Homo sapiens: one gene and its partners. The protein of the gene in region 2 interacts with the protein of the main gene of each other region in a pairwise test. Each region holds a gene or a part of one and is shown on either strand. Other genes may lie near its edges.

Region 1 (3,654 bases), on a different chromosome or scaffold from region 2:
CCATGAGGAGAGAGGCCTTAGATGACCTAGAGTGGCTCTTGGGCACTCAGATTCACCAAGAAGCCCTCCAACTACATGAAGAAGTGAAGTGAATTCTCAGAGGCCAACCAAGACACTGGCCCAGCCAAGAGGCTTGAAGGCAGCTGGATAAGGGCCTGTAAGGCTGCTTTGCAGAGCTGAGCTGAGGCAAGCACACCAGGGTCTCTGGGCAGCAGGAGGAGGGTCACAGCAGGCCCCTTCCATGCCTCTTGACTACAGTGCTGGCTGCTGGCAACGCTCGGGACTCTGCATTAGCATTTTGCAGACTGACAACTATTCCAGCATGCCCCATACTGAGAATTATAGGGACATTCTTAACTCTTTTCTGAACACAACTATTTCCAATTTCTCAGCTTTGCTCAAAGACAGGTACACACCTGTCTTTCTAAACTGAGTCAAATCTAAACTACCTGATATTTGCCGAACCAGCCCACTTGGAACTGGCCAGAGACTGGGCTCCCCACTGTGATCTGGAGGTGGCTGATGGTCAGTTGTGCAGCAAGGGAATGGGGCTGGAAGAAAGGGGTCTGGAGTTACTCACAGTCCTTTATAGAGGATGCAGCCAGCGAGAATGTGAGGCGAGCGCTGGCAGGTCTGCAGAATGCGGGCTGCCTTCAGCAACAACAGGGGCTCCACCTGTGCAGGGCAAGAGGCATCATGCCCACCCATCAGCATGCTCACAATCAGGAAGGGAGAAAAGGGGAAAGGGTTGTACAGAACAGCTGGACAGGGTGTAGCTCAAAGCCTGGAAAAGGAGAATGTGTCACACAGTGAAAGCTGTGCCATGGCTTGGGACTATTCTACCTCTCTATACTCAGAACTGCTGACACCACTAAATGCCAAATTCTTAGAACAAGGAGGCCTGTCCAGAAGCTAGAAGGTGCAGCAAATATGGCATATGGCTATTCAAAGGGGTCAAAGTAGATGGCCTGGGAGACCGACTGTCTACCCTGACAATGCTAAGACCTCACGGCAGCAGAAGAGGAGGGTGTATCCTATAAATACATGTCATGGTACCAGGTGAAACCCACCTACCCTATCCTCCACTTTCCTTCTGAAGCACAATCCCCATGGTGATACAGGTGGCTTGATGTCTGACCAGGTTCCATGACTCTATTCCATCACATAAAATGAAAACATCATGCTCTTTCACTCGGGGAAATATGCCTCAGTTCCACATTCCTTGTATGGAGTCAGGGGCCTAGAAGTCCCTAAAAATACAAGAAAAGCATCTGGACCTGGTCAGGAAGAGCCAGCAATAACCAGCAGCCTCCTCAGACTTCCACCTGCCAGCTAGAACCAGCAAGTATCCACCAGCTGTTAGAACTAGTGTTAATGGAGCCTCCGGAGCTGCTGACACATTAAGAAGTTTATTCTTCATAGCCTCAAGACTGTGCCATCCCAGCCAGCCATTCTATAAAGCTCTGGGGCCAGCTACAGGAAGTTTTCCAGACTGGAGCAGGGAAAACCCTTCCCCATGTCTGGTGGAGTCATGCTCTGTGAAGGCTGAGCCACAGTGCTACACCCCTGCTACAGGGACATTATTTACTATCGCAGTGAGACACAGGAGAGGGCTGTGAGTCAGGGCTCAGGTAGCTGGCTCTTAATGGGGCAGCACAGGTGGTCAGGCCAGCCACACAAGCAGCCTAGGTTTCACTGAGTGCCAACCGCAAACGGAGCGGCTCAGAGATACAAAAACAGTTCCCAACCATTCTCTCTCAAAGACAGCAACCTTGTTTTTGAAATGTTCATGCTGGGCATTTTTGATGCTGAGAATAACTAGATCATATGATATGAATATCAAGAGAGGCGGCCTTCAGATTACTGAGTTCAACACTTCTGAGGCATGAACAAAATACTAATTCCCTTTACTGAGCATTTACTTGGTGTCATTTGAGGTACTGCTTCACTTGATCATCAAAACAGTTCAAGAAGGCAGGTATGCTGACACCATTCTTTGGATAAGGGAAATGAGGCTGAGAGGTGACCTGCCGTGTCATGGCCCTGCCTGAGAAGTGACATTCTACTCACTTTTCCAGATATAGTTCACTTCAGGAATATTAAAAAAGTATCCAGAAGCCCTAGTCTTACATATAAAATGAATAAGGAGGATGAAAATGTTACTTTAGTTTGGTCCAAGTTCCAGAGGGAATTGAAAATCTTATGCAGATCACTGGTGTTTTTCAGAATTTGCTCGATGAAGGTGTCCCACTCCGTGCTCAGTTCTTCCTGAGAACAGTTCTAAAACAGAAAGAGCCTCAGGTCAATATCTGAGATTTTGAGGGACAGATTCTTTGGCCAGAGTCCCAACTACCTCAAAAATTGTTCCTCACACAGGAAACTGACCGGAAGGGAGGACCTGTTTTAAACCTATCCCATCACAGATCCACGGCGCCTGCCGCGTGGGGGTGGCAAGCAGGGCCTGCGCTTTCTAAACATCCCAGGGAGGAGATGGGGATAAACATTTGGAATAAATGTGACCTATGCCACTAGGCCCAAAGGCATATGAGGGGCCTCCAAGAGCTCCTGACCTTGTCCCCAGACACAATGTGTTTATATGAAGTATACAAGACCCCAGAGTAAGTGCTGCATTCTGGCAATACCGGTTTTTATAAAGAGGCCCAATGTAAGACTCCTCAACCCCATACTTGTACCTCATAAGCTAGGGAAACAGGTCCATTGTAAAAATTAAAGAATCCAACTAGCTGATCCAGAAACCGCTTGCAGCTGACATCAGGGAGCTCCACAGCACAGCCCAGCACCTGTAAAGAGAGAAACCAGGAAGACAAGCATCTTCCTTCTCTTTGAGTCCAAGCCCAGAATCCTGGCATCCAGGGCTCTCAATTACCTGACTTCACTGGCCCATCGAAATTGATCTTCTATTGTCCCTGAGTCCACACCCTTCATTCTGGCCAAGTTAATCTCCATGGACAAGTAAGTTCTGTACCTCAATTCATGTTTTCCAATCTCAAATGTCCTTTTCCTTATTGTTCATTTCCCCAGAACTTACAACCTTCAGTGCCCACCACCAATTTCAGTATCTCCATGAGGTCTGTTCTATTACCTCGAGCCAATAATGCTGACCTTTTTTCTGACCCTTGCATTGTTAGGACTGTTATTTGGACAGTAGATGTTTAATCTGGATTCCATTACAAACAATGGACAGGACTCAAACTCCTTCATGAATGGCCATCATGTTTCTCCAGCTGGATAGAGTGCTTTAAGAGCAAGAACTGACCGCAATCTTCCCAGTCCTAGATCTCCAAAATGCTGAGCGTAGTGGTTAGTTCCACAGAAGATAAATACTTGGCCGGGCACGGTGGCTCATGCCTGTAATCCCAGCACTTTGAGTGGATCACGAGGTCAAGAGATCGAGACCATCCTGACCAACATGGTGAAACCCCGTCTCTACTAAAAATACTGGGCGTGGTGGTGTGTGCCTGTAGTCCCAGCTACTCAGGAGGCTGAGGCAGGGGAATCGCTTGAACCTGGGAGGCAGAGGTTGCAGCGAGCCGAGATTGCGCTACTGCACTCCAGCCTGGCAACAGAGCGAGACACCGTCTCAAAAAAAAAAAAGTACTTGCTGAGTTAGAAAGTTATCTGGTCATATGTTTA
Region 2 (2,593 bases):
ATAGTAGGAATGTTTTAACTTCAACTAGGAAACTTTCCCCAAGGGTGAAAAATAAAAACATTTAGTCCATTAATGAATTGTAATTTTGTATCTTCCACACAGCACATTGTAATTGTTACATCAGTTAACAAATGCAGGTTTGTCTGTTCTCCAGTTCAGTAGTTTGCTTTTTTTTTTTTTTTTTTTTTTTTTGAGGTGGAGTCTCACTGTCACCAGGCTGGAGTGCAGTGATGTGATCTCGGCTCACTGCAACCTCCACCTTCCGGGTTCAAGTGATTCTCCTGCGTCAGCCTTCCGAGAAGCTGGGACTACAGGCACGATGCCCAACTAATTTTTGTATTTTTAGTAGAGACCGGGTTCACCATGTTGTCAAGGATGGTGTCGACCTCTTGACCTCCAAAAGTGTTGGGATTGCAGGCGTGAGCCACCGCGCCTGGCCTTGCCTTTTTTCTTAAAACCGAACTGTATCTCTGCTGGGGGCAGTGGTTCACTCCCTACATGACAGTCAGCTCCTCTCACCCAGCATGTCCTTTGATATCCCCATCACTCCCCAGTTGAGGGTCTCATCCACACTCAGTCTAGGCTTTGGTTAGCCTCCATAGAATCAGATAGTCACCAACCACACAGCATATGAACTTCATCCACAAAAGACCACAATTTGCTTTATCAAGTCTGATCACTGCAACAAGTCTTTTTCTAACAAAAAATCTCCTTGAGAGCAAATCACTAAATGTTCAGTAATAGAGAAGACACTAAGTAAATACATTGCCGAATAAAGATGTCTTCGTTTACCCTCTCACAAAGTACAATCCTTCTTAGTATTTCTTCTGAGAGTGATAAAGTCAGCTTGTGTCTTGTGTTATAAAGGAATGTTTTAACTTCAATTAAGAAACTTTCCCCAAGGGTCAAGAAAGTAACAAAAATATTTAGTCCATTAATCGAATTGTAATTTTGTATCTTCCACACAGTACATTGTAATTATTACATCAGTTATCAAATGCACATTTGTCTGTTCTCCAAGTTCAGTAGTTAGCCTTTTTCTTAAAACTGAACTCTATCTATGGAAAGGCTTTCCATTCATAGACAACTTGAATTTAGCTGGATGTATTACAGACTGTATGAAGCAACTCTTGTACCACTGGGGGCCCACCCTCCGCCTGAGACTGTGGAACATGATTTATGGGGGTGGGGGTGCATGAATGGCACACAAATGATGAGTAATTACTAGTGAGAGTAATTCTAGTATGTAGAATGAAAACAGGAATGGTTAAATCATTTTGAAGAGAATGAAGAAGTAAATTAACAATGCATTGCAAATACATTAGATTTTAATCTTTAATATCTAACATTATTGCTTTAGGAAAGTATTTCCCTGAACCAAGAATACAATGCTAATTGCATAAAAACATACACATATAAAAAGTAGTTCTCCATTTTCCCAGGAAAAAATCCAAGTATAACTTCTAGAATAGTCAAGTTTCTTATTTTTATTATAATTAAAGTCTTGGTCATTTCATTTATTAGCTCTGCAACTTACATATTTAAATTAAAGAAACGTTATTAGACAACTGTTACAATTTATAAATGTAAGGTGCCATTATTGAGTAAATATATTCCTCCAAGAGTGGATGTGTCCCTTCTCCCACCAACTAATGAAGCAGCAACATTAGTTTAATTTTATTAGTAGATGATACACTGCTGCAAACGCTAATTCTCTTCTCCATCCCCATGTTGATTTTGTGTATATGTGTGAGTTGGTTAGAATGCATCAACAATCTAACAATCAACAGCAAGATGAGCTAGGCTTGGGCTTTCGGTGAAGATTGACTGTGTCTGTCTGAATCAAATGATCTGACCTATCCTCGGTAGCAAGAACTCTTCGAACCGCTTCCTCAAAGGCTGCTGCCACATTTGTGGCATCTTTTGCACTTGTTTCAAAATAAGGATAGTCGCCGTTGTCCCTGCACCAAGCTTGGGCTTCTTCTGTAGACACCTGCCGTTCGCTTATGTCAATCTTGTTACCCAGAATCACAAAAGGAAAGCTCTCAGGCTCTTTCACATCTGCATAATATATGAATTCTTTCTTCCAGTTACTTAAGTTCTGGAAGCTTTGTGAATCATCGACACTAAAAGTAAGCAGGCAGCAGTCAGAACCTCTGTAAAATGGTGTCCTCAGGCTTCGGAATCGCTCCTGACCTGCCGTGTCCCAAATCTGCATGGTAACAAAATGTCCATCCACTTCCAAATCTTTATTTAAAAATTCCACACCTATTGTATGGAAGAGCTGGGTATCAAACTTATTAGTTACATATCTGTTCATAAGTGAACTCTTCCCAACTCCACCATCTCCAAGGAGAATTACTTTAAAAAGTGATGATTTTCCTGCCATTGTTAATCTCAAAAGCTTCAAGAACCCTGTAAAATAAAAAGGCACCATTACATTCCTTTATACCTACACATTCTTCTACATGATTCTACGAATATCAGCATTTAGCTGAAATAAAACATATGGCCCCAGGGAATACCTAATAATAAGACTTGTTGTTTACTGAGCACTTAGCCATGTGCAGGCTACTATTCTACCATTATTCTC
Region 3 (3,637 bases), on a different chromosome or scaffold from region 2:
GGTTGGCTACCAAAATCCCAGGTCCTACCTCAGCAGGCTCCCTGAAGCAACCCTCAGGGAGGGGCCCATGAGCCTCATGTTTCAGGGACATGAAGACAGACACAGATGGGTATGTGCCCCTCCCTCCACTGTCCACCACCTGGGTCCACCTCCCCACAGACCTCCCCTGCTGCCATTCAAGGGCCACCTTGGTGAGATGCCCCGGCCCCCACCAGCCACCTCAGACTCTGGGATCTCTCTGTCCTCCTCGCCCCTCCCCCACTCTCAACAGGGGTTGTGAAACAGGTGGGGTTGGGCCCAGGGGTGACTGACACATAAGACCTGCAGGACAGCCTGAAGAGGGTGGCATGCCCCGCACCCAGGCAGAGGGGCAGCGGCTGGTGTGTCAGGGGTGCCCTGAGGAGTTTCTTGTTTGCCCTGCGCTCATGGTTTAGCCACAGCCCAGCATGGCACTGTCCAGAGAGGCCATGGCCCTGTCATGCCTCCCATGTTCCAAGAAGCATCTGGCTCCTGGAGGGCTGCTCCTTCCTTTCCCCCAACCCCTCACCCTCCTGTCTCCAGGGCACCCTCCCTCCCCCATGTGACCACGCCCTGGACGGAAGCCCTGCTGGGATCCCAGTGACCCTTGGTTTAGAAGATGCAGACGGTGTCAAACTCTGCTTTATTGGAATAGAGAATACAGGCAGCAGGAATCACGCTTGGTGCTGGCAGCTCCAGGTCCCCTGCCCCCACGGGCTCTCCCACTTGTCTGGATCAGGGGAGACCTCCACTTTGAAGAACAATATGGGGTGGGAGCTTCCAATGTGCATTCTGCTACCAGCCTCAGGATTAGCAGCAAGATGCCAACAGCAACAGCAACAGCAACAGCAACAGCAACAGCAACAAAGGACTGGACTCGACACTTCAGGAAAGGACGTGTAGAAGAGAAAGTCAGACCCACAGTGTCACGTGTTAACAACGGTCCCACAACAGCAGACACGACACTGGTGTGCACGGCTGTACCACCTGTGGGAGGCTGACAGCACACCGACAGCCCTGAGGGGCCCGGCATTCTCACTCCCAACATGAGAAAGAATTAACACAACACACACACATGTTCACATTCTCTGCGAGGACAGTCAAATTAAGGTACCAAAGGGAGGATAAAACATTTTTAGAGAACACAAAAGCCTGCTGCCCTGCCCCAGTAGGCGTCAGGCTGGACACGACAGGCTGGCTGTGGCCTGGGCTAGCCGGTGAGCTCGACAGGCAGCTCACGGCCACACAGGGCCTCCCACTGGCGAGCCAACAGCGAGATGAGCTTCTCTCTGCTCTCAGCACTGGGGACAAACACCTGCCACTGGACTTCACGGCCCTGGCTGGCTCTAGCCGGGCCACCTGGCACCTCCCCAAAGTGGTCCAGGGTGACACTGCCCATGAGGTCATGACCTTGCACGTCATCGAAGACGAGGGTGAGGGCCTGCGGGTAGGTCTGGTAGCCCATGAGCACTCGGTCCAGGTCCCGGACGCGGCGGCCATCGTCCAGCCGGTACCTGTCTCTCTGCGGCGGCTCTTTGGCAAACTCGGGCAGTGGGTAGTGGACACAGTCCTCATCCAGGAGGAAGATCTCGGAGCTGGTGAGCAGGAGTGTCTTGGGGCGCAGGGGGCCCCTGCAGCACCCAGGGGGTGGCATGCCCACCTGGAAGGCCTGCACGTACAGCAGGATGCTGAGGGCTGGGGCCTTCTCTGGCTCAGCCATCTTTTGGGCCACAGTGAACGTCAGGTCCCCAATCTCCTCCTCACTGGGGTAGGTAAACTTGACGCGACTAGAGTGGATCAGCTCGTAGTTCTCCATCTTCCCTGCAGAGAGATGCCACCTGGGCTATAGCCTGGAACCGGCCCCTGGTGGGGCTGGGAGCACCAAGGGCCCCAAGCCAACCGAGAGACCCCGGCATGAGACAGGCAGGAGAGGATGCTCCAAGTGTGGGGCCCACAGGCCAGGAGCCCAAAGCAGGCACTGGAGATGTGTCTGCCAGATGGTTGAGGGACTGCTGGAGTGGAGACTCTGCCATCGAAAAGCCCCACATAAAACCCTGGCCAGCTAAGTGAGAAAAGAGAGACATAGAGGCAGAGAGGGTTCTGGGGCACAGAGAGCCACCCTGGGGCCCATGACGTCTGTCCAGGCAGCCTGTCTGCAGCCTGAGCTAGACAGGGGTACCTGTGGTCTTGTTCCCAAACTCGGAGTAGAAGTCCTTGTCAACAGGCTCCGGCGAGGGCGTGCGTTCCAGAGAGGACAGCACGACCATGAGGTGCTGGAGGAAGCAGTGCGTCAGGTAGCTGTCCCGCGTCAAGCACGTGACCACCTGCATCGGGGTGGAACCTGCACGAGAAGGGGCTGGTCAGGGCCACAGGCCGGCGCTCCCCAGCCCTATCCCTGCCCCTTAGAGCCACCCCGAGTCCCTAGCAAGCCTCAGCCCAGAGGCCAGGGCCAGGAGGGCCCACACAGGAAAGAATCATGGGGCCCGGGAGGAGGCCATTCCTTCAGGCCGGAAGAGCTGAGGCATTTTTCTGGAAGGGGAGACAGAGACATTAGGCAAAGAGCTTAGCTTTCTCTCCTCAGGAAATGTGAGTCAGAAACATCCTGCCCGAGACCAGGGCCCACTCTGCTTCTGTCCGGGCCAGCGCTTGCCGCACACCCTACCTCCTGCTCTGAGCCCTGGAGCGTGAGTTCTGCTCTCTCAGCAGTTCCTGAAGCTGCTTCCTCCCACCCCGGTTAAGAAGTGGCTCTTGAGCACAGAGATAACTGTCTATGATAACCCACCCACGTACGGAAGGTGGAAGCCCACTGGTGATGCTGGCCTTCACCCGAAATAGGACAAAGCACAGAGGGTCACCCACCCGTCAGCCGGAAATGCTGGTCGAAAAGCCCCACATTGACTGACTGCAGGTCACTAAGCTTTAGCACGAAGCACTGGGAGATGTGGAAAGGGCTGTTGTTGTAGTCGGTGTTTTTCTGATGCCAGAAATCTGTGTGATGGAGAAAGGGACAGAGGGAGGCGGTGGCAGGCAAGCACAAGGTTCCTAGGTGTGCAGCACATCCAGCAGGAACAGGTCCTCTTGGCTGGCCTGGCTTCCACCCGTGCAAAGCCCCATAGGCAATGCCCTCTGGAGTCGGAGCCTCTTCCAGCTCAGGGGAGTCACCAGGTCGCTGGCTAGGGCTTCCTGTGCAGCCCCAGGGGCAAAGGCTGCCTAACCCCTTCTCATCACTGGCTGTTCCCAAGCAGTCACCAGGCCCTGGCTCAGTGCATTCTGCGTTCACATCTGGCCATGGACCCCTCCCTCATGACAGCTCCCTTCCTCAGACAAGGAACTCTCAGCCCACTGCAGCCAAGTCGCTGACTGCTGCCTGAAGCCACACAGCTGGCTCCAGAGAATGACCCCCCAGGCCTGCCCCAACCACACACTCCAAGCTCCTGAGCCCCAGCAGGCCCTGTGCCTACCCTGCAGTGGCTCTGAGAAGTAGCGGCGGAGGCCGTCGTGGAGCACAAAGTACACAGCCTTGGTGGAGAGCAGCACGCAGGCAGTCACCTCCAGCCCTGGGGTCTGGTAGAACACCACCGAGGACCACATGAGGTGCCTCAGCTCCTCGTTTTCAACC

Evidence for each region.
Region 1: the proteins of RAB9A (region 2) and HPS4 interact in a two-hybrid assay, tested with the Homo sapiens proteins (one study listed by IntAct).
Region 3: the proteins of RAB9A (region 2) and NISCH interact in binary tests that used the Homo sapiens proteins (3 or more experiments, as listed by UniProt).

What each region holds. Positions count from the first base shown.
Region 1 is NC_000022.11:26,470,139-26,473,792, forward strand, and holds part of HPS4 (BLOC-3 complex member HPS4), read right to left. Parts: intron 2,802-3,654; coding exon 2,694-2,801; intron 2,281-2,693; coding exon 2,164-2,280; intron 1,251-2,163; exon of another isoform or gene 1,153-1,250; coding exon of another isoform or gene 1,075-1,152; intron 785-1,074; exon of another isoform or gene 676-784; coding exon 581-675; intron 1-580.
Region 2 is NC_000023.11:13,708,543-13,711,135, reverse strand, and holds the end of RAB9A (ras-related protein Rab-9A), read right to left. Parts: intron 2,416-2,593; 5' UTR 2,390-2,415; coding exon 1,784-2,389; 3' UTR 632-1,783; downstream 1-631. UniProt on the Homo sapiens protein: The small GTPases Rab are key regulators of intracellular membrane trafficking, from the formation of transport vesicles to their fusion with membranes.
Region 3 is NC_000003.12:52,490,074-52,493,710, reverse strand, and holds the end of NISCH (nischarin), read right to left. Parts: intron 3,637-3,637; coding exon 3,480-3,636; intron 3,007-3,479; coding exon 2,878-3,006; intron 2,360-2,877; coding exon 2,198-2,359; intron 1,840-2,197; coding exon 1,229-1,839; 3' UTR 643-1,228; downstream 1-642. UniProt on the Homo sapiens protein: Acts either as the functional imidazoline-1 receptor (I1R) candidate or as a membrane-associated mediator of the I1R signaling.